Linked DNA regions of Homo sapiens: region 2 is linked to region 1. Evidence: fine-mapped expression QTL. A gene starts in region 1. The other region holds a variant in brackets. All regions are shown on one strand. Distances are from middle to middle.

Region 1 (12,680 bases):
AGTCACCCAATTTTGCCTATGTAATAAAGCTTATGCAAAAAAAACTCCTTTTTTTTTAAACAAAATGTAATTGTTTTATGATAGTCTTTTTTTTTTTTTTTAAGATGAACTTTTGCTCTTGTTGCCCAGGCTGGAGTGCAATGGCGTGATCTTGGCTCACTGCAACCTCTGCCTCCTGGGTTCAAGTGATTCTCCGGCCTCAGCCTCCTCAGTAGCTTGGATTACAGGCACCCGCCACCACGCCCGGCTAATTTTTTGTATTTTTAGTAGAGATGGGGTTTCACCATGTTGGCCAGGCTGGTCTCAAATTCCTGACCTCAGGTGATCCATCTGCCTCGGCCTCCCAAAGTGCTGGGATTACAGGCATGAGCCACCACACCCAGTCTTTTGATAGTCTTTTATTAAAACTCTTTGAAACTGTGGCTCACTAAAATTTGATATCAATGAACAATATCTCACTAGGATACCCTTTCAAAAAATATTAAGTTTAGAATTAGCAAATAGGATTTTTCTGGCTGTAAAAGGAGAACAAAAAAATTTAAAATCCTCCATTTTTTTTTGCCAGCAAAGGAAAATGAATAATTAATGCCTCATCCCATTTCTAACTTGAATCATCCCTCCCCTCCCTGCAATTAAACTGGGGTGAATTTCTTTTTTGCTAGATGAACTGTTTTCTATTTATTTGTTTATTTCTGAGACAGAGTCTTGCTCTGTCGCCCAGGCTGGAGTGCAGTGGTGCGATCTTGACTCACTGCAACCTCCACCTCCTGGGCTCAAGCAATTTTCCTGCCTCAGCCTCCCAAGTAGCTAGGACTACAGGCACCCACCACCATGCTCGCCTAATTTTGCATTTTTAGTAGAGCCGGGGTTTCACCATGTTGGCCAGGCTGGTCTCGAACTCCTGACCTCAGGTGATCCACCCGCCTCGGTCTCCCAAAGTGCTGGGATTACAGGCATGAGCCACTGCGCCAGGCCTAGATGAACGATTGAAGAAGGCTGGAGCAATGGGTTCCCACAATAGCAAGACTGCATTTTGAAGGCATGAAATTATTAAAGCTCAAAGACTGAAGTACAAAGTGAAATTCTGACTCATGATAAAGTGTATTTATGGCCTTGGCAATACATCTTAGCAATTATTCAAAAGAAAACAATTAAATTTCCTAAATGTTCTTCTGGCTGCAAACTCAGTGACTATCAGAGGGAGACATAAACTTCTGCTAACAGATAAATCTTCCTAACAGGTTGGATACACAACAGCACTGCCTCCTTACTCTTTCTATTCTGCGATCTAGGGACCTTTTCAGGTCTCTGGAATGTAATAATTTGAGTTATAGAAACTATCTGCTGGTTAAAAAAAAAAGAAACACATAATACTACAAAACACTGCCATTAAACAGGCAGTTGGGGAAAATAAACAATTCTTTCATCACCTTTAACCAAAAGGCTTAACAAGTTTTACGATTACCACTTAATTCTCAATACCACTTTCCGGGAGATATGATTCAGGCCCATGTCCTTGTTATTAAATAAGGCTTGCAACAGAATGAAATCCAACAGGTGTATGACTTTCAAGGCACGCAGCCGAGGAGCTTGGCCCTCAATGCGAGAAAGCAGCGTGGGGACAAGAGGAACATAGCTTTCAGAAACAGCAGGCTATAGGCTTAGATTTTTTTTTATTAGATTTTTGGTTTTCTGTGTGTTTGTCTGTTTTTTTGAGTTGGAGTCTCGCTCTGTTGCCCAGGCTGGAGTATGCAGTGAAGTGGCGAGATCTCAGCTCACTGCAACCTCCGCCTCCTGGGTTACAGCAATTCTCCTGCCTCAGTCTCCAAGCAGCTGGGATTACAGGTGCCCGCTACCACGTCCGGCTAATTTTTTGTATTTTTAGTAGAGATGGGGTTTCGCCATGTTGGCCAGGCTGGTCTTGAACTCCTGACCTTAGGTGATCTGCCCGCCTTGGCCTTCCAAAGTGCTGGGATTACAGATGTGAGCCACCACGTCCAGCTATTAGATCTCTGGATTGAACTTTTGTCATTTTAATTTACAAAGCCCAAAAATCATCTGTGTATCTAGTATATATGCAGAGCCAGCAAAGATAACTGGGATAGTTGATTTTCTACAGGACTTGTTGGTGATGCTATGAATCAGCAGGAAAACAGAAATTGCATGTGAAGGCAACAAAACTTAGAGACACAAGTGCTAATGTCTATCAACATATTATATTAGAAAAAAACATAATTTGGAGACCAAAATGTCTGAGAACTGTTATCCTAGGGTTAATGTATGCTTCGAATGAATTCATGTATACACACAAAAATTTAACAAAAAAGTACAATCTATGCAAGATGATAACATTTGGGGGTAAATATTTATGAGCAGAGAAAGTACACACAGATTTCTTACAACGCTGCAGCCTTTATATGAAGAAATTCTTCAATTATATACAAACTTCGGCAGACATCAATTTGGATTTTTCCAAAATCCAGAAAGGGGAAAATAGATGTGGAAAAATCTGAGGAAAATCAAAAAGAACTCAAGTACTCAGCGACGTTTAAGACCAGAACCCAGGACTACACCTCCACCCAAATTCCAGGACAAAACTGGGTTGTCATGGCATCTGGGCTTTTCATAAATGCTCACCTATCTCCCACGGTCTATTCTAGACTGAACTAACCAGATCTACAGCATGCCCTTTCTCTTCAGTGACCCAGTGACTCAGGGCAGGTGAAGGGAGCAGGACTTGTGTGACACAGTGGAGGCTGGCCTGCCTTCCTGTCTCCAAGATGTGGGCGGCAGGGATGAGCAAAGCCTCGGCCAAAGAAGTATTAATAAACCAGCTGCCTTGTCAGATAGAGGTAGTCGAAATCCAACAAGCATTTCTATCTCCACAATAGGGACTAGAAAAATTCTGAGGGCTGCATTTTGCTTCAGTTTCTTATACATTACATTATTTTTGGTGTTATCAGGGAATCCAGGTAGTTCCAGGGTTGCAGTGATGCTCTAAAACTACTAGATGATAGCTCAGTGCATCACAGAGGAAGCTTTCAGGTTCCAGCTCAGGTCAATAGAATCTGCTATTTTAGCTTAGGAATGCGTGGTGGTTCGGCCCCTTGTACAATCCAAGCAGCCATTTTGCCCTTAATATGACATTTGCAGAATGTTCTGGCCAGCTCAGATAGACACTTCTGTACCACACGTTCTCATGCAAACACACCCTCTCATTTTCTAAGAACAAACAAGAATGCAGCACTGAGCATAAAATGAACAGGGCCAGTGCGGCGGCTCACACCTGTAACCCTAGCACTTTGGGAGGGCAAGGCGGGAGGAGTATTCGAGACCAGGTGTTGGAGACCAGTCTGGGCAACCTACTGAGACCTCATCTTTTTAAAAAATAATTTTTTAAAAAAGTAAAGGTACAGAAACACTGACATGTGGAGTGCTCAGATAAAGCATCACCTTCAGTTCAATAATCTGAACTCTAGTTCTTCATTTGGGGCTGATAAACGGAAGAAGCTATCTCAGATATGTGGAGGTTTACACGATGAATTCAATGGCGAATTTGTTTTTGGAGAAGTGGATAGAAAACAGGAGTTCTACCAAATATAGTAAAGCCTTATCTATAAATAAACACAAGGAAGAAAAACATTTTTAGGATGCCTGAGTCAGCATGTTTACACGGCATGATTATTTAGTTTGGGGTTTAACCAATCCTGTGACTCAAATCCCAGGATTCTCAGAAGTTCCTGAGTACTTCCCACCCTCACCTCTTCACTAATGTTCACGAGGCAGGAAGCCATCACATGCTAAGACAGGCCATTTACTCAAAACACCCAAAACATCTGGTCATAGATGCAGACTGATGACAACTGTTTATTTAAGATGTATATTTTGTCATGTTTTCATCATAGGACTAAAGAGGAATCTCAAAACCAAAATGCCAAACTTTATGCAAAAGTCTGATACTTTGGACGAAGTATTTTGAATACTGTTTTCTTTGCTTCTTAAGATCACTGATGTTTGGTGCTAAGTATTTCACTATATTTTGGGTTGTTTTATTAAAAATTTAAATTTAGATGTATTGTTTCAATTTCTTTGGTTCAGATACATGATCTGTTTCCTGCCCTTGCTCATGCTATCAAAATAGCTCCTTGAAAGAGCACCAACATGCTTTTCCATATCCTTAGCATTTCACACACTGTATGTTCTTATCATATTCTACAAAAACACGGCAACTTCACTATGATTTAGCAAAACACAGGCTTTGTACTCTTCCTTCTCAAGGATTACTCTTAATCTTTAATGGCAGCTGCATTCTCAACTTAATACAACGTTCAACAAATAAAAAAGACAACTGCTTCTGAGCCCAATATTATACATTAGGTAAGGAACACGATACTCCTCATTACTGTTCTGTCTCAGGATATAAGTTTGCAAATTCTTCTCCTGATCTCAGTCAACATAAAAGCAGAATTACAGTTTAGAGTGGGCAATGAGAAAGGTGGAATCAAAATAGACACAGGGAAGGCCATAAAGAGTTCGCAAGCATAAATGCCTGATAGCAAAAACGATCACAGAAGATTCCAAAACCACAATCCTGCACAAAGGCCATCTCAATCTTACACAAAAAATACTTCTGCAATGCCTGCCGAGCACCTGCCTGTCCAACCTGGGACTGGTGTCACCTTTGTTACTGATCCTTGTAGTCAAAAATAATTATCTCAAAACAATTATGTAACCCTCCTCATTTTTCCTTTAAAGACCTTTGTCTTCCTCTATCTCCCAGGATACACACAGTTAACTATCGCATGCATTTTCTCATTGCAGTGCTCTATTCCTGAATAAATGCCATTTTCTTTTAGAGAGCCTCTCTCTGTTCGTTATTTAAGTTGACAGCAACAAACAGTTTAGGTTTTTGGCAACAAATCACCAATATTTACTTAAAAACAAACAAAACACTTACAACACAGGTAGGAACAACAGGTTATTTTGGAAAGAGTTTAATATATTCTCTATTGTTAAGTGCACCAGATGCTGGACTTCTGAAACAACAATTATGCTTCTGCATAATAGCTTTTTCTACATATTTCTGTTCATGTTGCTTGTTCCTCTGATTTACCTGGAATCAATGAATCTGAAAAACAAAAAGATTCTTTAAGCACCTGGTAAATTTCAGGTCCCACATTAGAAAATGAGCAATCATCAATAATATTGATGGGGGTGAAAATATGACATTGAGACTTTCGGGTAATGTGCCGAGTTTACTTTCATAGTTTACTAGGCTCAGGTTTCATGCCGAAGGATTATTTGAAAGACTCACTCACTGACATGATTTTCTGATTTTAAATTCGAACACTCTCAAAGCATAAACAGATCACCTCCAGCAACATTGTAAAAAAATACTCAAAGTTTAAAAAAAAAAAAGTAACTTGTGGCAGTACTTAGTGTTCAACAGAAAACACTCCATCTGCTAAACAATATCTCGACTGCAAAGCTTCTCTTACTGTTGGCGGATAGATAATGACATAGCCCAGTCATTATCACCGTGGCAACAGTGACCAGAAACTATCAGAGGAAAATTGCACATGGAACAGCTGGCTCTCGAGCAGGCATGCCTCAGCTTCCTCTGGAGTATGCTTTTTCTGCAAGTCTGGTGTGCTCGAGGGTACCACCAACCCTGTGCGGCTCCAAGACTACAGATTATGTAGCAAGTCCACTGGTCCTGCTCTTCCGGATTTATTCTTCCCGCCAATAGGAGCACTTACCACGTTCCAAGCATCGTCCTAGGCACTGAGGATACAGCAGTGAATAAAACTGAGTGCTGGGTAGGAAGTCAATAACCAAGCTAGTAAATAACTGTATATTGTCAAGCACTGGTAAGTACAAGGGAGAGCAGAGCAAGCAATGGGCCTGATGAGGCTTGCTTTGTCTCCTCTGCACTCCCACACTGCTTTGTATCTGCTTCTCATTTCTCACGATGGGTCCAAGCTTTGGGCACCAGGTCTCCCTGGACATTCCGCGCTGGCACTGCGCCTAGCACCCAGCGGCTGCTCAGGAAACGTTTGTCGAACGAACGAATTCACTTCTTAGTTCCCCATTCAACAAACCTTTCCTGATCCTAGGCCCAACAGGTTAAAAGGCTGGAGGGCCAACGAGGCTGGAAACTCAGAGGCGGCCGGGGGCGGTGGCTCACGCCTGTAATCCCAGCACTTTAAGAGGCCGAGGCAGGAGGATCCCTTGAAGCCAGGAGTTCGAGACCAGCCTGGGCAAAAAAGTGAGACATCGACCCCCCGCCCCCGCCGCCAATTCCGTCTCTACAAAAAGGAAGAAAAAAAAAAAAAACCCAGAGGAAATCACACAGGCAAAAGCGCTTTACAAATTTTAAAAATGAAAACTGTTCTAGAGAAATAATCGCGCGCCGGAGGCGGAAGCCCCAGAGCCTCAGCTCCCACGTGGCGGCGGAGCCAGGGAAAGTCCAGGAGCCAAGGCTACGGCCCGAGCGCTGGAACCCCGGTCAGGCTCCGGCTCCCCGCCACGACGAACTGCATGCGGCCGCGGCGCTCCGGAGGCGCCCGGGGACGCTCACCTAAGCTGGGAGAGGCGGATACCCGCCCGGCCTAGCCCCGCTACCTCCCAAGAGACCAACACGACAAGCGCGCGCCCACCGCATTGCCATGGCAATTCAACCGCCGCTGACACCGGAACCGGAAACTTCATCAGGAGGTGACCCCTTCCCGGCGTTCCGCGGAACGGGCGAGTCCCGCGCCTCTCCCAGTTGTCTCGGCGTAGTCCAGCTGGCCTCATTGGCTCACAGGAGGAAAGTCGTCTTCCCTCTTGTTTTGCCTCTCGTTGCCCTGCAAGCGTGACCCTGATGGACATCCAGTCTCTCCAATTAACTAACAAAGCGGTTGCCGACGACCAATAGTAAGGCAGTAGGATGAGGCTCCGGCATAAGGCCCACCTCCTACCTGCCGGGCGGGACGAGCAACATGATTGGTGGAATCGAGTAATTACTGATCAGTATTGTCCAATCACGGAGGGCAGTTTAGAGCCGGCCCAATGAGGGCCTCCAGGGGGCGGGTCGGACTGCCGCGGGCCGGGGAGCGCTCTGGGTGGCCAGCTGTGGGCCCGGGCCGTCGTGGGCTCCGGCTTGCGTGCGGAGATGAGCGGGTCCCTCGGCCGAGCTGCGGCGGCTCTGCTCCGCTGGGGGCGCGGCGCGGGCGGCGGTGGCCTTTGGGGTCCGGGCGTGCGGGCGGCGGGCTCGGGCGCGGGCGGCGGCGGCTCGGCGGAGCAGTTGGACGCGCTGGTGAAGAAGGACAAGGTGGTGGTCTTCCTCAAGGGGACGCCGGAGCAGCCCCAGTGCGGCTTCAGCAACGCCGTGGTGCAGATCCTGCGGCTGCACGGCGTCCGCGATTACGCGGCCTACAACGTGCTGGACGACCCGGAGCTCCGACAAGGTCAGGCCAGTGTGCCGGGCAGGCGCCCTCCGCCCCGGGCCCAGGAGCATCGCTGCACGAGGCCGAGGGGTTCCGCCGCGCCGGGCTGGGGAGCGGGGCTCCATCCGCCGGGGTCTGTCTGAAGGTTCGAGCCGGGTTAGGGCGAGGAGTACTGCCCTGGAGTAGAGTCTGGGCTGAGGGTGTAGTTGATTTCACTGGGTCTTGAGGATCTGGGGCTCTGTACTGTTGCCAACTTGAGCAGTAGGTAAAGTCCTAAAGGTTCACTTATCCTCACTTCGAGCTAATATAGGCGTTTCGGGGCGATTTGTCAATGACTGACTCGGAGGAGGGTGGCCCGCTGCCTGACTGCTCTGCACGGTTAGGAAACTCATAGTAAGGACCCACTGTGAGATAGGTACTTTCGCGGACACTTTGGGGAGGTTGGAAGCCATTGGCCTACTCGTGGGTAAGGTCTAGGGCTGTCGATGGTGGGGAGAGGGCTGAGGTTGCCCTTGAGGCTAGTGAGGTCGGAGGCTGATCTCGCTTGGCTCACGGCTCAGGGTGTCAAGCATCATCCTCTGTGGTTGCTACAAGCAAAGGGTTGGGACAGCTGTCGGCTGACCTTAGTCGGGATCTATGTTGTCGGGGAAGAGTCATGACATTTGGCTTTAGATACTCAAGCACAGGGCTGAATTTATGTGGGCCAGGGCTTGGAGAGGTTTGTGGGGAAAAGAAGCAGCCCTGGCTCCTGGGCCCTGGGCTAACTCACTGGCTCAGCCTTGGAGCCCAGGGGGCCAGGGCACCAGGGACCAGATGGATTAGGCCGGGAGAGGGAAGGCTGCAGCTAATAAGCATCTTTTCCAAGTACTCCACGTGCATTCGCCAGTCTTATCTGAGTAGGGGAGGAGGAAGAGGCCAGGCACAAGGGCCTGCTCCTTGGCCAGGATGGTCAGGGTTGGTGGAAAACTGGGAAGGCTGTACCTTTTCCTTCTAGAGAGTGACTTAGGATACCTGCATCCCAGTTAGAGACTTTCAGTGACTGAGTCCCTGCATGTCCCTAGCTAAAAAGAGGTGCCAGTTGTGTGCTAAAAATAGGTGCCAGGTTCTCTGTTACTCTAAATTCGAAATTACTAATCATAGTCATTGCTTACAATGATGAGACAGGCTGGTGTTTGGAAAAGCTTTGGGTTGACATCCTCTTCTGTGGCTAATCAGGTGTAAAACTTAAGTCACTCACCTGCATTTGAGGATAATGAGACAATTTGGCAAAGTTTGTGTTAGGAAGCCAAAGTAAAAATTATAGAAAGTGTGTATTATTTTACCTGGCACAGAAAGCACCCGGTAAATGGTAGCTGGCTTCGTATTAGCACTTGATGGTTTTCAAATGTATTTTTTCCCAGATTATCTAGTCCTTAAAGACTCTTGGGGATAACTGATCCTCCATTTGCTGTAGGTGATAGTGGTGGTGGGTGGGACCTAGAAAGCATGTTGAGTTGAGGAGTCGAGAGGGCAGGTTCAAATTACCACGTATATGTAATATTACCATGTGTTATTCTCATGACCCTTTTGTCTTCCTTGTCAACTAGTATGCCACCAGTTACTGGGCTCAGTTTTATCATGTGCAAGGCAAGGGACCTGCAGTCTTCCTTCGAAGACAGCTTCTCTGCTTAAAAGAGGAGTAACTATTTTGCAGTCTTTTGACAGAGACCTTGCAGGGAGTCCCCTGCAAATTGCCAATATGGCACTAGTAAAAAAGTGGTGTTGTTATCTCGCTTAGTATCATGTTTCGAGGGTCTTTGGTTTGTGAATTTATTTTCTCTTGTTTAATATAACTGGAAATGAGATATGCTGGAATATAGCTAGTAAACGGAAAATAGGAGCAAAAATACGAATATGTACTGATAACATTTTATTTTTCTGTCTTTTATCCACGTCTGGTGTCTGGTTTCTGAGCTTACTTTCTTAAGTTTTCAAACAGCAGCGACAGGAATTTAACCCTTACATTCCTTGACCACTGAGTTTCATCAGATTGCTATTTTGGTTAATAAACGCGTTGCATATATATTGAATATAACATACCTCTTTTATTGATTAGAAAAGTAAAGATTAGTAAGTATTAACATTTGGACTGGGCAGGGTGGTAAAAGCACGTTCCCCAAATGGGGATTAGTTCAGCCAGGTTATTAAGACTCTTCCCCTCTTCCCTATACAGCTTTATTTACCAAGAGCAACTAACGGGCTGTCCGATGCTTGCTTTTGCCAGCCGAAACTATGTTTGTACACCAGATCCAAGGTCATTTCTAGTAATAGGAACGGAGCTCTTGCAAAACTGGCCTTTTGTTGGTTCTTATGCCAAGGAGACCTGAACTTTACAAAGTGCCTAAACCGGAGGAAAACATTCTTTCCTAGTTTTGAGTACTGGGTTCCCAGGAGTGTGATACAGACACATCTTGAGACTGTGACCCAAGGAACAAAGGTGACTATGAGGCAGCATTGTGTTCTGGCCTTCTCAAGACCTTCTTGTCCTTCTCTTTTTATCTGGAGTGCACACAGAAGACAGTCACAAAGGGATCAGGTCCCAGTAGACTGACATCATCATTTCCTAATCCTGGTCTTAATAAAGGAACTTATGCTCATGGAAGCAATGTAGAAAACACTGAAAAGTTTAAAGAAGGAAAATCACCTGTAATTTATGGAAACTATTGTATTAACATTTAGATCTAGTTCCTAACAGTTTTTTTTTTTTTAACACATTGAGACCATGCTTGTCTATACATAGTATTTTGCCCTCCAGAGACGAGGGAATATGTCTTATGCCACTGCCTGTGGTGCTGTGTGTACCGCTTATGCAAAGCAAGCTTTCAGTGAGCATTTTAATAAATAAATAAATACTGCTTTTATTTATCATTATATTGCAAACTCTGCGGCCTTAAAGGCATTATAAACATTTGCTGCCGATTTAGATCATCATTGTAGTCCTTGCATCTGGAACAGTGACAGAATAGGGACTCAAATGATTTGTTGAATAAATAACCATATCCTGTTGTTGAATGTTTATTAAGCATTTGAAAATACGCTCCACCTTTTCAGTATCAGGGAATTGAAGACAGTAGTGAAACATGTCATGCTGGTGAACCTTAAAAGTTGGATAACAAGTTGTGTGTATGTGCTTGTGTGGTGCACATGTATGCTGCAGATGGGAGTATAAAATGGTACCAACACTTTGGAGGAGTAACTATCAGTACCCAGTCAAGCTATGGGTGAACAGAGCCTAAGACCCAGCTGCGTGACTCCTAGGTATATATTCTAGAGAGGGGGATCTGCAAACTTACCCTAGTAAAGGGCCAGAGACTAAGTACGTCAGGCTTTGTGGGCTGTGTGGTTTTTGTTGCATCTATTCAACTCTGCTGTTATATAGCCTGAAGTCAGTCATGGGCAATATGTAGATGAATGAGCAGGCTGAGTTTCAATAAAACTTTATTTATGAAAATACAGCTTTAATTACGAAGTAGACTGGATTTGGCCTGAAGACCATAGTTTATCTGTCCCTGGCCTAGAGACTGACTTCTGCATGTGTGTGTTAGGACATGGGTCCCCAACCCCCAGGCCAGGGATCGAGGACTTACAGCAGGAGGTAAGCGGTGGGTAAGTGAGCTTTACCGCCTGAGCTCCGCCTCCTGCCACATCAGTGACGACATTAGGTTCTCATAGGAGCACAAACTCTATTGTGAACTGCACATGTGAGGAATCTAGGTTGTGCGTTCCTTACGAGAATGTAACTAATGCCTGATGATGTGAGGTGGAACCGTTTCATCCCGAAGCTATCCCCACCCTTCCCTGGTCCGTGGAAAAATTGTCTTCCACAAAACCAGTCCCTGGTGCCAAAAAGGTTGGGGACCTCTGTGTTAGGATACCTGTGTTGGCGCGTTCATTGCAGCATGGCTTGCAATAATGAAAAACTGACAGGAAGGGATCTTGGTCTATTAGCAGCAGACCAGATAAATAAACTTTAGTCACATGATGGAAAGCTAAACTGTAGTTAAAATGAACTAGATCTAGATGTATTTAACATGGCTGAATCTCAAAAATACAATATTTAGTCAAAAAGCAAGTTGCAAACACGTAATTATGGCATAATACCATTTGTATATGTAAATGTTAAAGGCATAAAACAGTCCCATATATTGCAGATATGTGTGCAGTGCACTTGTAGCTCCTGGGCAGGAGTGAGATGGCAGCTAGAGGGTAGAGGCCACCTCTGGTGAGGGACTCAGGTAGCATGTGGTTAAGAGTCTGGGCTTTTGTACTCCTGGAAGCCTGGATATAAATCCTGGTTTCACTGCGCTGTCACTGTGAGTTTCGGTAAGTTACTTAACCCTTCTGAGCCTTAGTTTCTTCATCTTATGTAAAGTAGGGATAATTGTACCTGCCTTGTCAGATTTTTGTAAAGATTAAATAAGATTATTTTTGTAAAACGCTTAAAGAGTATGAAACTCAGTAATCCTTAACTCAATAAATGGTATATATATATATATTTTTTTTTTTTTGAGAGAGTGTTACTCTGCTGCCTAGGCTGAAGTGCAGGGGGCAATCTCGGCTCACTGCCACCCCTGCCTCCCGGGTTCAAGCGATTCTCCTGCCTCAGCCTCCCAAGGAGCTGGGATTGCAGGCACCTGGCACCATGCCTGGCTAATTTTTTTTATTTTTAGTAGGGACAGGGTTTCACCATGTTGGCCAGGCTGGTCTTGAACTCCTGACCTCAGGTGATGCACCAGCCTTGGCCTCCCAAAGTGCTGGGATTACAGGTGTGAGCCACCGCACCTGGCCTGAATGGCGTTTTCATTACTTTAGGGTATACTTAATCACTTTTTCCTGCTTTATTTTCCTATGCTTTTTCTGTTGCCTTTCTCAGAAAAGCATTACTGTGAAGGGTGGGTGGTGGAGCATGTTGGTATGGAGAGAATGTCCACACTGTACCTGGTACTATGCTGGGAGCTCAATTCATTTCATTCCTTAGATATCATGGAATCTTCATAATATGTGAGGCGTAGAGTATATTCCCATTTTACAGATGAGGAAACTGAGGCTAAAAGATTAACAGATTTGTCTGAGGCTACATTTACAGGCTAGCAAACCAGATCTACTGATCCTTAAGCCTGTGCCTTGCCCACTCTGCCCCGTGCCTTGCTTTTCCTCTAGTGAGGGTCTACTGATTTCCGTGCTTTCAGCTCAGATCATCTTATCTCGACT
Region 2 (8,000 bases), 71 kb before region 1:
GGAAGCCCAGGCTTAGGACCAAGCTCTTCAGTAGAGATCTGAGAAGTTCTCTCAAGGCTGGGCATGGTGGCTCGTGTCTATAATTCTAGCATTTTGGGAGGTGGAGGCAGGAGGATTGCTTGAGCCCAGGAGTTCGAGACCAGCCTGAGAAACACAGTGAGATGGCATCTCTACAAAAAATTTAAAGATTAGCTGGGTTTGTGAAGGGCGCTTGTAGTCCCAGCTACTTGGGAGGCTGAGGCAGGAGGATCGCTTGAGCCCAGGAGGTGGAGGCTGCAGTGAGCTGTGACTGCACCACTGCACTCCAGCCTACCTCACCTGACAGAACAAGACCCTGTCTCAAAACAGCAACAACAACAACAAAAATTGTTGAGCACTCCAACTGGGGTTGTGAAAAAGAGAAATAACATTGGAGGCACCATACATTCTTATTTAGAAACCTAGTTTTATTTTTTATTTTTTGAAACAGAGTCTCACTCTGTTGCCTAGACTGGAGTACAATGGCCTGATCTTGGCTCACTGTAACCTCTGCCTCCTGGGTTCAAGCGATTCTCGTGCCTCAGCCTCCCAAGTAGCTGGCATTACAGGGGTGCACCACGATGCCTAGTTTTTTTTTTTTTTTTTTTTTTTTGCTATTTTTAGAAGAGACGGGGTTTCACCATGTTGGCTAGGTTGGTCTCGAACTCCTGACCTCAAATGATCCACCTGCCTCAGCATCTCAAAGTGCTGGGATTACAGGCGTGAGCCACCATGCCCAGTCAAAAGCCTATTTTAAAGTTATAGTAACTGAAATGGCTTACAACTGGAATCAAGAAAGACAAAATTCTTACAAAACATGGGCCCTGCTTGAATCTGAAAGTGGAGCAAGCGAGGGGACAGTCCCCTTCATGCTTCCCGCCTGCAGCCCTAAGGATGGCTCCGGGGCTTCGGCAAGCTCCCCTGCTGGCTTCCCCTTCCTGCAGGGTTATTTAAATCCGTCAAAACTCTCCTGGAGCCTCCTCCATCAACAGGAAAGGCTCATTCATGAAACAAAGTGGGTCAGGAGTAACAGACAGAGGCTGGATGCTGGGCCCCTGGCCGCGCTGATGGTGATAGATGCAGCCGGGAGTGAACTCTCCCATGGAAGTGCCGGCCGTGGCTGCTAGTGTGTGAAGGATGAGGTGCTGGCACCCGGAGAAGTCCAGGGTAAATAAAAGTCTGTGTGATGGGGAGCAGGTGCTCAGAGAGGACCTCGGCAGGAGGGGCAGGGATCCAGCTGAGATCCGTGCCAGGCATAACAGTCACAGGGCAGAATCCAGCCGTGCTGGAGAATGACGGGGTGACAAACGGGAAGGTGCTCAACCTTCTCGTTAGACCCAGCAATTACACCATCTGCGGCGGGCAGAGCTGTCAGGAATGTCAAAACCTAACCAATTAACAAGGGTGGTGCGGATTTATGCCTCTGCAAAGGGCTGCACGAGCAGCTCTGATTCATCACAAGCAGCTCTGATTCACGGCCAAGATGCCAGACAGACGCGCCTTCTGTGAGGGCCGCCACGGGAAGCAGCGGGGGTGAGGATGCTTCCATGTGCCTGCCTTTGGGAAGACTAAATCGGGATTAAAAACAAACAAACAAGCCCCTCCCCGCAGCCAGCCTGCCCTGTCTACATTTCACTTGCAAACACTGCGGGCTGACAATGTGCCATTGCTCCCCTCTGGGCTTAGCCTTGGCCCTAGTCAAGAATCTCCCTCTAGCAGGTGGTCACAGAGGCTCCAGTTCAGGGAGGACCCCATGGTGCTTCTGTGGTTCCGTCCCCATCAACCCTAGAGGCTGTGCTAATTAACATGATGGACGTCAAAAATGGGTTTTCCTCGTTGGAGCAGTGGCCTGTTCTAGCATGGCAAGCAGTGGCAATGGGCTCTCATAGGTAAAAGTAGGGGCACTAACCTGAACCTAGAGACCAATCCCACCCCGAGGCCAGGCCTCGACCCCCAGGAAGGCACGAGGACAGAACCATCGCTGGAGTCAGACGACTGCCCCAAGAGAGACCTTTTATGCAGGGGAGGTCTTCATCAAGCTTTCAGAGCAGGGACTGGGAGGCTGGGACCACCAAGGATCTCTGCAGGCTGCTGGGTATGTGGAGTGCCCACCCACCTTGGGATGAGGCTAGAATCTTCCCCCTTTGTCTGGGGCTGGAGGGCTGGGGACACCCAGGAGGTCAATGCCGGGGGCTGCATCCCACCTTGCTGATGAGGAGCTTAGGATTGAGTGGTTGGATCTCTGGCCAAGGGCGATGGAGAAGTTTGCCCCGCTCAGGAGCCTCTCAGGCTTCGGAAGAACATGGCACCCTCTGGATCCACGAAAGCTCCATCCATAGAATCTGGTGGATGCTATAGCTCCTCGCCCCATAGAAATGCACACTCATACCTTCTGAATACAAGATCAAAGAGGCTGCAGGGGTCCGCGTGGCCCCTCCCCACCTACCCCTCAGTTCTCCCCATGGCCAGCTTCTAGAGAGACAGGAAACACCTCCAGGGTACACCACAGCCCTCCTGTCTAAGAGCTGACCGGGCTCCCTGTGAGTGAGAACAAAGTCCTCAAGCTTGCAGGAAGACTTCATGAGGGGCCATGGCCTTCAGCCAACAGCTGAGAAAGCCAAAACTGAATTCACTTCTCCATGCAGGGTCCAGCCACCCCACAAACAACAGCGCCCCATTTCCACATTGGCATCAGCATTGACCAGCCATCTGGCAACTCCAAGGGCTTCCACCATGGAGGGAGTCTCCCCCTCACCGCACCCCAAACCTCCCCCATCACCGCTGTCTCCGCACATGACACAGCCTTCCATGCTCCTGCCCCAGGACACTGCCAGGCGGGCCTTTGCCTCTTGAGAGCCCTGGATGCAAGGGCTCCCTCTTCAGCAGCTCAAACCTGCCTTTCACTGTCCCAGCCTGACCACAGAAGCACCCGGGGCCCCAGCTCATCCTGATGGTCACAGGTGCAGACACTAACGCAGGACCTGAGTCGCAGCTGCAGGGAGCGCCACCTTAGAAGTCATCAGCACCTCTGGCTTTTTCTACTGGGCCGCTGGTGTCTGACGCACAGAATGTTTTTTAATCTAAAAAATTAGTCCAAAAGGCCAGGTACAGTGGCTCACTTCTGTAATCCCAGCACTTCGGGAGGCCAAGGCGGATCACCTGAGGTCGGGAGTTTGAGACCAGCCTGACCAACATGGAGAGACCCCATCTCTACTAAAAAATACAAAATTAGCCGGGCATGGTGACACATGCCTGTAATGCCAGCTACTCGGGAGGCTGAGGCAGGAGAATCACTTGAACCCGGGAGGCAGAGGTTGCAGTGAGCTGAGATCATGCCATTGTACTCCAGCCTGGGCAACAAGAGTGAAACTCAGTCTCAAAATAAAAAAAAGAGTCCAATAACAACTTCTCCATCTACTTCATAAAAAGA[C/CG]TGGGGGAGCAGATGAGGTCAGAGACAGGAAAAGGTTAGAAAAAACAGCTCTCACTGATAAGAGCTGTGATGTCTATAGCGTTTTGGATTGTGTGAGGGGAGAACTCCCTGGAATGAAAATGAGGCTCTTGGAGGCAATCCTTTCAGCATCTGGGCCAGAATTGATGCTCACTCAGCACCCCAGCATCCACCCTCACGTACAAACATGCACACACACCCATGCACATACATGCAAACCTGCACACACACCAACAACTTTTTATCTCATCTCCTCCACACCCTGCACCAGGCGCTCTCTGCTGATTGGCACAAGCACCTGTTTCCTGTAAAGCCACAGCAAAGAGGCTGTGGAGCCAGGCACCTGTCCCAGCTGGGCCAGAGGGGCAGACCTGGAGAGAGAATTGCCATGAAGCCTGCCCATGCCACACGGGCCTTGGCAGGGCTGGATGAGGGCCAATTGGCTGCCTCTGCAAGAGCCAAGTCGAATCCCCGCCTTGCCCATCCATTCTGGGCCTTGCGCAGTCTCCTGGAGCCTCCTGTGGCTCCTCTCTGGGGCCCTGCGGGTTGCTTGCCTTCAAACTGCAGGGGTGGAGTTCTCATTATTTCAACAGATAGTTCTGAGCACCTGCTGCATGGCAAACAGCCATTGTTGTTCCTATTTATTCTCACTGCTACTGAGAGTAGAAGTCGTTCTTTATATTGGCAAAATGCTTGCCAGTTTTCAAAGAGCTCACATGTAACCATACAGCCCCCACAACCTGGGTGCAGGTCAGGTGAGCTGCCCTGAGGCCACACAGCTGGGAAGCAGCAGTGCCTGGCCTGGAATCCAAGTCCCTTCCCAAGCGCCAGAGCCTTGTTCCTGGTGGATTTTCTAGTTCTGCTTATCACAGAGCTTATTTCCCTTAAACTGTCAGCATGAAGAACCCAGGAGATGTTCAGTTTCAGCGCTATAGCCAACTAGAGAGCCAGAAATGCCAGATAAAATGTAACATAACAAACACCGTTTCAATGCAGACCCACGTCACACCAAGGGAAGGGATATTCCCATGGGCCAGAAGTAAAGATGCCCGGGAAACCACCCTGTTAAGCTCACACAGGTGCCTGAAGTCTTAGTTACTAGAAGCTTGGGTTTAATGCTCAGGCTGGAGTAAGAAGTGAGACTTTGGGCTCAGAGGCAACAGAGACCACTGCAAAAAGACAGAGCCTCAAGTGGCTGCCCGCCCCCACTAGCCAAAGGGTGAAGTAGAAAAAAAATATTGTTACAAACGCAATCTGAGAAGGAAATGTGCATGTTTTAGCCTGGGCCTAAAAACAAACAAACAAAAAAAACCAATCACCCTTCAGAATATGGAGTTGGGGCCTATTGTATGATTCTGGCTTGGGGTTCACGTTTAGAATATCCGCCTGATCTGGGAACCCCCAAGCCAATTCACTGACATGAAAATAGGAGTCGTGAAGATAAACCTCAGGAGGAGCCCAGCTGAAGCCAACAGAAAGCCACTCTCAGGTGGTGTCCCAGCTGCAGGCTTCTGCAGATGCATCCTGCTTAGGCTGAGCTTAGAGCTCAAAAGGACAACACCCCCCAAGGAAACAATCTACCATGTCAGGGGACACATAGGTGCCTGACGTGGAACTTCAGCCTTAGACCTGGAACCTCAGCCACTAGAAAAATCTGATGGGGACTGTAAAATACATATGTTTAGAATGATTGCAAATATAAGCTATATCTGGGAGGAATGCAAAATCTCAGGGGGAAAATGACATAATTTGTTAAAAAGAACAGGGAGACATAATACAGAACCAAATAAAATTTCTAACAAATGTAATTGAACTTGATAACTCAATGAACTGTTTCCAAATAAGGCAAGAATGGGGTGAGGAAATGCAGACAGAGAATGGACAGAGGGACTGGGGCAAGGGCAAGAGAGAGCAAGGAGGAAACACTGAAGGAGAAGGATTAAAGGGCAGGAGGAGGAAGGGAGGGGAGGAGGGAGAGAGGAAGAGAGAGAAAGGAGGAGAAGGGGGAAGCTGTTTGGATCAAAGTGAACATCACAGTCCATCAGTCAGTCGGTCAACACACCTATATGTATATTAAGCACTGCGAAACACTGGGTATCTGGACGGTAGATAATGGTGAGTGGGTGGTGGAAGAGTTGGTAGGTGAGGATTGGGGGATGGGTAGCTAGGTGGGTGGATGGCTGGATAAACGAGTGGGTGATGGTCAATAGTGGGTAGATAGGTGGTGAAGGGGTAGGCAGTGGAGAGATGGATGAGTGAATGGGTGAGTGAGGAAGAGGTGGCTGGGTTGATGGGTAGGTGAATGAGTAGATAGATGAATGCGTGGGCGATTAAGTGGTTGAAGAGATGAATAGCAGATTGATCAGGCTGGTGGGGAAGTAGATGGATGAGTGAGTCAACAGATGGGTGGGAGAATACATGGATGAACAAATGGTGGGGTAGATAGGTGAATGGGGTGGTGTGTGGGTGGATAGTGAAGGGGAGATTTGGTGATTTAGTGGGGAGGTAGATGGGTGAGTAGGTAGACAGATGGATGGGAGGGTGGTTGGATAGTGAACAGGTGAGTAGATGGATTGATAGTAGAAAGATAGATTGATAGTAGGTAAATAGCTTGATAGTAGGCAAACAGTGGCTGGAATGGGTAGATAAGGGTGGATACATGGATGGGTGGGTGAGGATGTAGCCCACTCAGCCTCACCCTCACCTGGGCCTTGGCCTTCACTGCATCGTACTCAGCCTTCATTCTCTTCTGGGCATCTTCGTCCACGCTGGGGTCCCCGATCCTGTTGAACAGGGAGGCTGCCTCCTCCAGCAGCCGGTCCAGGAGCACCGCCTGGTTGTCCACGTTGTGCAGCAGCACCTGGGCGTGGCTCAGCTGCCACTGCTTCTCCTTCAGGCCCAGCTGGAGCTCGATGTGGGGCTCCAGTGTGACCATCATCTTCTGGAACCAGCGGTAGAACTCATCTCGGGCCAGCAGGTACTCGCTCCAGTGCAGCCACACCCACTCGATGCGGCTGTGGGCACAGAGACCTCAAGGTTGTGAGGGAACCAGCCACCTGCCTCCTGGGTCGGGGGTCTGTGCTGTCACCCCCTCCCCAATACTAGGGGGCTGTGGTCTGGGGGCATGATGATGCCCTTTCTGGCCTCTGAGTCACCTGGGCAGCTTGTTGACACTCCAGATTCTAGACCCTCCCTCAGTCCTACTGGATAAGACCCTCTGCCCAGTAAATAAGCTCCCTGCGTGAGGGTAGGAGCCAGGGGAGCTCAGACTCCAAACTTCCTCCCAGAACCACCAGTTTTGGGGATGCATCTTGGGGAGCCGTTTACCTCCAGCACCTTAAATCCTGGCCCTGAACTCCCACTGTCAATGCACAGACACCCCCAGTCATTTCTCTTTGGCACTGGGGCTCTAAACACAGTTTCTCCAGGCCGCTGGCACACGCACACCCACTAATTTTAGGAGCAGACTGCGGTTGGGATGTGTCCAGTCACCTGCAGAGCACTTTGGATCTGTCTTTACTAACAGCAGGCATGGCCTAAAGCTCAAGCTCAGATCCCCAGCCTGTCTCCCTGGGGGCTGGTGGTCAGTGTCCTTAGACTGGCTTCCCAGCAGCCTGCTTGTCTCTGACCCTTCCCCATGGCTGGGGTGAAGGAGGAGCTCCTGCCATGTGGAATGCTGCCCCACTGACATCTGTGACATCTGCATCTGTGGGCTCGTTGCACCCAATGGGGACGGAAGGCTGGGAGCCTGCGTGTGCGTTCCAGGGGTGCTGTGAACTCACTCTGCAACCCTGCCTCTTCACATGCCTTAGTTTCTCCATCTCTAACATGGAGGTGGCTCTATCTCCCCAGCCAACATCAAGTCACTGTGTTAGGAATTTCCAGCGCAAGGATTTAGAAAGCAGGAAGCACTGTGCAAAGTCATTCCCATCTCCATGCACATCCTTGCTTTATAAAAATGGAGATGATCCTGGCAGCTCTTGTTTACTGAGGGCCTACTTTGTACCAAGCAGTGTGCCTCGCTCTTGATATTTGCTATCCCCTCCTAACTTCCTAACAACCTTCAAGGAGCACTTGATTACTCCCATTGTCCAGAGAGGTGCTTGAGGTTCAGCGAGGTCAGGTAACTTTCCCAAACCACATAGGAAGTAACCAGCAGGACAAGAGTCAATGCCAGGTCTGTCCGAGTGTTTGCTCCCCACCACCCCCTGTCCCGGCCAACCACCACCCAGCTTCCTGGTACAAGCAGGGACTCTGGCTACAGTGCTAGCAGGGCCCCAGGCCTTCTTTCTCCAGAGCCATTGTGCCATGCTCTGGAGGATGCACACACGGTAAGTCTCTTAGGAATTGTTGACAAAACACGCTGGGTTCCCAGTGTCTATTATCATCATTCAACCTGATTATAATTAGAAAGAGGCAGGCAGGGCTGGCCCTAATCCCAAGAGAATATCCTGTCCCCCAGAATCCCAGGACTGGAGAAATGTCTCTTGGGCAGAGGGCCCAAGCTAGTGTCACAGTGGGCAAGGAGGGTAAA

What was found.
Region 2: its variant is fine-mapped to the expression of GLRX5 in esophagus muscle (GTEx, PIP 0.91).

What each region holds. Positions count from the first base shown.
Region 1 is chr14:95,527,934-95,540,613 of GRCh38, forward strand. It overlaps GLRX5 (glutaredoxin 5), which reads left to right and starts at 7,117. Exons shown (of 2, transcript NM_016417.3): 1 at 7,117-7,451. The coding sequence starts at 7,157. SNHG10 (small nucleolar RNA host gene 10) reads right to left here and starts at 6,939. Exons shown (of 1, transcript NR_003138.3): 1 at 4,979-6,939. It also overlaps SCARNA13. RefSeq lists enhancers at 5,547-6,336, 6,337-7,126, 6,390-6,849 and silencers at 6,990-7,279, 7,490-7,549.
Region 2 is chr14:95,459,761-95,467,760 of GRCh38, forward strand. SYNE3 (spectrin repeat containing nuclear envelope family member 3) reads right to left here. Exons shown (of 18, transcript NM_152592.6): 4 at 6,171-6,480. Among named protein-coding and RNA genes, the nearest start is that of SYNE3-AS1, 52 kb to the right of the region's middle. The variant C/CG (reference allele first, on the strand shown) is at 3,449.